Linked DNA regions of Homo sapiens. The protein of the gene in region 1 purifies or fractionates together with the protein of each later gene. This does not show direct contact. Each region holds a gene or a part of one and is shown on either strand. Other genes may lie near its edges. The genes, in order: ARID3C and ZNF609.

What was found.
Region 2: the proteins of ARID3C (region 1) and ZNF609 purify together in Homo sapiens (affinity purification with mass spectrometry; one large-scale study listed by BioGRID and IntAct). This does not show direct contact.

What each region holds. Positions count from the first base shown.
Region 1 is NC_000009.12:34,623,041-34,626,311, reverse strand, and holds part of ARID3C (AT-rich interactive domain-containing protein 3C), read left to right. Parts: intron 1-497; coding exon 498-570; intron 571-2,264; coding exon 2,265-2,448; intron 2,449-2,597; coding exon 2,598-2,887; intron 2,888-3,271. UniProt on the Homo sapiens protein: Transcription factor involved in monocyte-to-macrophage differentiation.
Region 2 is NC_000015.10:64,467,078-64,470,577, reverse strand, and holds part of ZNF609 (zinc finger protein 609), read right to left. Parts: intron 1-3,500. UniProt on the Homo sapiens protein: Transcription factor, which activates RAG1, and possibly RAG2, transcription. Through the regulation of RAG1/2 expression, may regulate thymocyte maturation.

The DNA.
Region 1 (3,271 bases):
CCTGAGGGGTGGGTTAGGAGCATCTCTGCCCTTCAGTCACCCCCAGCCCTGGCATACAGGGATGTGAACACCATGAAGTCCTTGCATGAATGAATCAGAGCATCAGATATATGTTTGTCTCCTCAGTCTGGTATACAACCCCAGCCTAGCTTCCTTCCTGGGGCTCTAAATTTCCCATGAGGGTGGGGGAAGACTGAGCCCCAGAGGGCAGGCTGAGCCTCCAAGCTCCATCCTGTTCCTCTCTTCCCTTACTCCCCAGATGGGTGGTTTGAATGGCCCAGGGTACCACTACCAGTACCAGTCTCTGTATGTACTAGAAAAAGGCACCCCTGCCTGCCCCTAGGCGGAGAGAGCCTAATGCTAATCCCAGGGAGTCCACATTGAGATCCTACTGACTCCTTCAGCTAGGGACCCTTGTTCAGGGTACAACCTGAATTGGGGTCAAGGGAGGGAGGGGGAGTCAGCAGAGCTGTAGAATGACCCCAATCCTTCCCCAGCTGTATGAGCTCGATGCAGACCCCAAGAGGAAGGAATTTCTGGATGACCTGTTTAGCTTCATGCAAAAGAGGGGTGAGTGGCATGATGTGGGGGAAGGGCCCTGGAATTGCCCCCTTACCAGGTTTGAGGAAACCCGGTTGGGTTCTCCCTGCTGAGGCCTGAGCTTGGCAGCACCTGTCCTTTGGGCCCTCGATAGCGTCTTTAACCTCTGACCCTGTCCCCCTCCTCCACCCCAGGATTAATTAGTGGCCAGCCCACTGGCAGGTTAATGAGTTTGGGATCAATTGGGAGGGTGGGAGGGGGAACTGATGGGAGCCTGGCCTGGGGTGGGAGGGTCCCAGAATCAGAGGGCTGAGAATGCCTTGGTTCTGTGTCCAGGGTCCTTCCTCCAGCCATGTCTTCCCTGTTTTCCCTTGATTCAGGCAGGGGACACCTCACGTGCTCTACAGCAGGAAGGACTAGGAATAGACTGAAGGAAGGACTTCCCAAGGGGTGGGCTGGGGACTATGTGAGTTGAGGCTGTGGAGGAGGAGAAATTCCTTTCCAGGAATGTCAGAGCTGGAGGAGAACGCAAGAAGGGTCCAGGAGGGCATCAGGGTGGGCGGCAGTCCATCACTTCAGCTTTTTCCCAGATTCATGGGACCGAACACTGACTCATTATCTCTCTCTGCAAAGCTAATTAACTCACTCAGAGCGCAGCCTGATAAGCCGCTAATTAACTGGCTGCCCTGTTACCCCCCGCCCCCCCACCGCCTTTAGTGCAGCTGCTGGCCCACTTCCCACTCCCGGCCCTCACCCCAGCACCTCTTTCTGGTCCCTTACCTTCCCAGGGACCCTCAGTAGGGACCTAAGTCCTTTTGGTTCCCAGGGAGGCCCATTCTGGTTCCAGTGTTCCCTCTCTGGCCCTTCCTCGAGGCCTCCCCTCCACTGGGGTAGCGGGTGTGAACCGATCCCAGCATTGCCTGCCTCCCTTCGGTCCCTGCCTCCCACCGCTCCAGCTGCAGGGGGAGGGGGTCCCGCGGGGCCGATAATTTTCCCCCATTAATCAGGCCGCAGCTAATTGTTCGGGTCCAAAGGCGCGGCGGAAGGGGACGGGATCGGTAAGGAATTAACTGGGGCCCATCGCTCAGCGCAGACAGGCCCCTTTGTCAGGACTGGCCGGCGGGGGCGGCGCGGGCTGCGGAGTCGGCGGGCCGAGGCGGGAGTTGATTCTTTTCCCGCCCGTCATCCCCCAGCCTTGGGCAGCCACCCGGGGGCTGCTGCTTAGGGGAGGCCGGCTCTTCAGCACTGTCCGAAAGTCCTTCCTGCGGTCTACCCCAGGGGACAGCAAACTAAAGTTTGCAGGCCAAACCCAGCTGCCTGCAAGATAAGAATGGTTTTTACTTGTTTAAATAGTTGGGGGACAAAATTTAAAGATGAATAACATCTCCAGACTGGTGAAATTCGAATTTCAGAGTCTATATTATTGGAACACAGCCGCATCCATTCCTTCAGGTATTCTCTATGGCCGCCTTTAGGCTACAATGACAGCGTTGAGTAGTTGTGACAGAGACCATTTAGCCATCTGGCCTTTTACAGAACTTTGCCCCCCCCCGTTCTAGCCTCCTGTCCTTCTTGCTAAAACAGAGACCCTGGGGTTCTGTGGGCTCCGCCCAAGTCTCCCTCTTTCCCGCCCTCCCCGGGGCTCCCGTCCTGTATCAGTCCCTGGGGATGCTGCAGACAGGGTCTTCGTCTCAGTGTCCTGACGGCAGCCCGCTCCCCACCAGGGACGCCAGTGAACCGCGTGCCCATCATGGCGAAGCAGGTGCTCGACCTGTACGCTCTGTTTCGCCTGGTGACCGCCAAGGGCGGCCTGGTGGAAGTCATCAACCGCAAAGTGTGGCGGGAAGTCACGCGCGGCCTCAGCCTACCCACCACCATCACCTCGGCCGCCTTCACTCTACGCACCCAGTGAGGCCAGGGGCGGGAGCGGAAGGGAAGGGGGCACGGGTTCGGCCTGGGGCGGGAGGGGGGAGGGTCCCCGGGCGGGCGTCCGGCTGTGGGACTTGACCAGCTGGGTGCAGCCTCCCATACACTCACCGCCCGCTGTCCGCCCCTAGGTACATGAAGTACCTGTACCCGTACGAGTGCGAGACTCGAGCGCTCAGCTCCCCAGGGGAGCTCCAGGCCGCCATAGACAGCAATCGGCGCGAGGGCCGTCGCCAGGCTTACACCGCTACTCCGCTCTTCGGCTTGGCAGGGCCGCCCCCTCGGGGCGCTCAGGACCCAGCCTTGGGTCCCGGCCCCGCCCCTCCGGCGACCCAGTCCAGCCCTGGCCCAGCCCAGGGTTCCACCTCCGGCCTGCCAGCGCATGCATGCGCTCAGCTGAGTCCAAGCCCTATTAAGAAAGGTGCGAGGGGAGAATGGTAGAGGTTTCGGGGTCTCTGAGGTTTAGGTGGGCGCTAAGATATAGCAACCATTAAAATGTGAGGATTGAGGTCTGGGGAGGCATTGAGGTATGGGAGCAGTAAGGTCTGACGGGCTTCTGAGGTTTGGGGGTCACTAAGGTTTAGGGGTCCTGAGGTTTGCGGCCAAATGAGAGCTCTGGGGTACGGGTTACTGAAGTGTAGGGGCTGAAGTTCAGGAAAAGGTCCTTTTTTTTCTTTTTTTCTTTTTTTTTTTTTTTTGTGAGACGGAGTCTCGTTCCGTCGCCCAGGCTGGAGTGCAGTGGCGCGATCTCAGCTCACGGCAACCTCCGCCTCCCGGGTTCAAGCGATTCTCCTGCCTCAGCCTC
Region 2 (3,500 bases), on another chromosome or scaffold:
CGCACTCCAGCCTGGGCAACAGAGCGACTTCATCTCAAAAAGAAAAAAAAAACTGCTTGAAAGCAAATACTTCCTAACATTACTCTCAATCTGAAAGTTCCTGAAACACTTACCAACCAGCTTTTCATTTCTCGTCTCTTTTAGGAGGGTATTTCAGAGATACCCCCTTGTTCGTCATACTTCGGCAAATGTCATCAACGTGCATTTTCAGCATTAAAAATAACGTAATTGGCTGGGTGCAGTGGCTCAAACCTGTAATCCCACCACTTTGGGAGGCTGAAGCAGGAGGATGGCTTGAGCCTAGGAGCTCAAGACTAGCCTGAGCAACATGGCAAACCATCATCTCTACAAAAAAAATTACAAAAATTAACCAAGCATGGTGGCACACTTTTGTAGTCCCAGCTACTTGGAAGGCTGAGGTGAACCCACTAGGTCAAGGCTGGGTAAGACCCTGTCAAAAATAAATAAATAACAACATAATTTTATTTTCCGAACAAAACACTGTGGGCAACTCAACTTGTACTCAGTCCCAAGAAGTTAATTCAAAGTGGAATTTCTACTGACTAGTCAAAAGTGGAAAAATATCCAACTAACCTCCATAATCAGTCCAATTTAGCTCCCAGATTTCAGATATAATAGATTATTAGATCCTTGACTGAATTTACAAAGTTACTTCTTATTGATAGATGGCAAATCCTTCCAGGTACAACTTCCTTCTCACAAGCTAAGGTTCCTTTTCTGCAGCTTTCTCAACTCCTGACCTCAAGCTGATCCACCCGCCTCGGCCTCCCAAAGTGCTAGGATTACAGGCGTGAGCCACCAAGCCAGGCCAGCCTTTTTTGCAGCTTTCTGATTTCCACTCCTATGTTTTAAGCACACTAGAAAAAGATATATGCGGCAAGTTGGTGAGCCTGCAGAATGAGGCTACAAAACCCTCCAAAAAAAGATGGCCTAATAAAAGTACAGCCTTCCAAACAAATCAAAGAGTATGAGAGTCAAGCCCCAGGGAACTGAAATTGCACTCATTAGCCCTTCTGAATACCGGCTATATTTTTGACCAGCAATAAAAAAAAAAAAGATGCTCACTTATGTTAAATATTTTTGTCCTGTTCTTCCACCATAATCTTTTTTTTTTTTTTTTTTTTTTTTTGGAAATAGGGTCTTGCTCTGTGCGAGTGAAGGCTGAATTGCAGTGGTGAGATCACAGCTCACTGCAGCCTCGACCTCCTGGGCTCAAGCGATCCTCCCATCTCTGCTTCCTGAAGAGCTGGGACCACAGTGCACACCACCTGGCTAATTATTTACGTATTTATTGAAATGGAATTTATCTCTTGTTGCCCAGGCTGGAGTGCAATGGCTTGATCTCGGCTCACTGCAACTTCTACCTCCCAAGTTTAAGCGATTCTCCTGCCTCAGCCTCCCAAGTAGCTGGGATTACAGGCATGTGCCACCACACACGGCTAATTTTGTACTTTTAGTAGAGACAAGGTTTCACCATGTTGGCCAGGCTGAATTGTGTTGTTTTTTTTTTTTTTTTTTTTAAGATATGAGGCCTCTCTGTTGCCCAGGCTGGTCTCCAACTCCTGGGCTCAAGTGATCCTCCTGCCTCAGCCTCCCAAAGTGCTAGGACTACAAGTGTCAACCTGACTCTCAATCTTGGTATCATGATATTCTACAGCTAAATGGAACCGCAGTGATCATCCTGTCTAATGTGTTCATTTCACAGATGAGGCACATGAAAACAGGGGCATGACTTGCACAAGGACAAACAGCTAATTAGAGGCACAGTAATGATCAGAATCTGGGTTTTATGACTCTCAATTCTATGATTTTTTCCCCTCTATTCTTTGAAAAGCTATACTAGCCAGGCATTGTGGCTCATGTCTGTAGTCCCAGCACTTTGGGAAACCATGGAAGGAGGACTGCTTGAGTCCAGGAATTTGAGACCAGCCTGGGCAACCAGACTGGAGTGCAGTGGCACACAACATAGTGAGACTCCATCTCTACAAAAACAATTTAAAAATTGGGCTGGTCACAGTGGCTCATGCCTATAATCCCAGCACTTTGGGAGGCCAAGGTGGGAGGATGGCTTGAGCCCAGGAGTTCAAGACAAGCCTGGGCAATGCAGCGAAACAAAAAAAAACACACAAAAAAATTAGCCAGGTGTGGTGGCATTGAGGCTGGAATGAGCTGTGATTGCACCATTGCACTCCAGCCTAGGCAACAGAGTGAGACCCTGTCTTAAGGAAGGAGAAGCAGAAGGAGGAGGAGAGAGGAGAAAATGAAGGAAGGAAGGAAGGAAAAGAAAAGAAAAGAAAGGAAAGGAAAGGAAAGGAGGAAGGAAGGAAGGAAAGAGAGGAAGGAGAGGAAGGGGAGGGAGGGAGGAAAAAAAAATTAGCTGGGTGTGGTGGCGCCTGCCTGTACTTCCAACTGCTTGGGAGGCTGAGGTAGGAGAATTGCTTGAGCTCAGGAGGTTGAGCCTGCAGTGAGCTGTGATCGTGATTGTGTCACTATGCTCCAGCCTGGTGACAGAGCAAGGCCCTGCCTCAAAAAAGAAAAAAAAAAAAAGCATACTAGTAAAGAAAACATAACACTCTTAGACAATATCTTAACTGTAACAAAGACACAGAAAAATAAAATTTCATCCACATAAAGAGAAGTGTTAGAACAGAAGAAGCAACATTTGTTCATATAGTACAGGGGTTACTTAAGGCACATATTTTCTTTTTTCTTTTTGACAGAGCCTTGCTCTGTTGCCAGACTGGAATGCAGTGGCACGATCTCCACTCACTGCAACCTCCATCTCTCAGATTCAAGCAATCATCCTTCCTCAGCCTCCCGAGTAGCTGGGACTACAGACGTGCGCCACCATGCCCAGCTAATTTTTGTATTTTTAGTAGAGACAGGATTTCACCATGTTGGCCAGGATGGTCTCGATCTCTTGACCTCATGATCCGCCCGTCTCGGCCTCCCAAAGTGCTTAGATTAGAGGCGTAAGCCACCGCACCGGGCTAAGGCACATGTTTTCTAAAGTATTTTATTAATTACCACCTGCTAGAATTTATGTCCTGTGTTTTCATCAAATGTACCTCCTTAAAAGCAGGCCACAGTGACACTTGTGGCAAAGGTCAGAAAAGTGATACTTCTGGCATAGATAACTGATGGTACAAAAGGAATCCACAAAGGTGATGCCCACAATCAAGAAGAAAGGACTGAAGAAGGGGTAGAGATATTGCTGGGAGGAAGTATTCCTGAAAAATGGAATTAAAAAAGAAAAAAACCCCAAAGAAGTTGGCCAGACACTAATGACCAGAGAACACAATAAAAAGAAGGCAGTTTCAGAGCTTGTCTGGCATCAGACAGCTCTCACCTGCAAAAGAAAGAAGGAAAAATTTCTCACAGAGACAAGAGAAAAATCCTAGGTTTGCCCCTGAGTGATGGACTAGATATGACCTGACAGGTATTTGCCATCTCTTATTTCTGGGACTCTGATCCAAGAA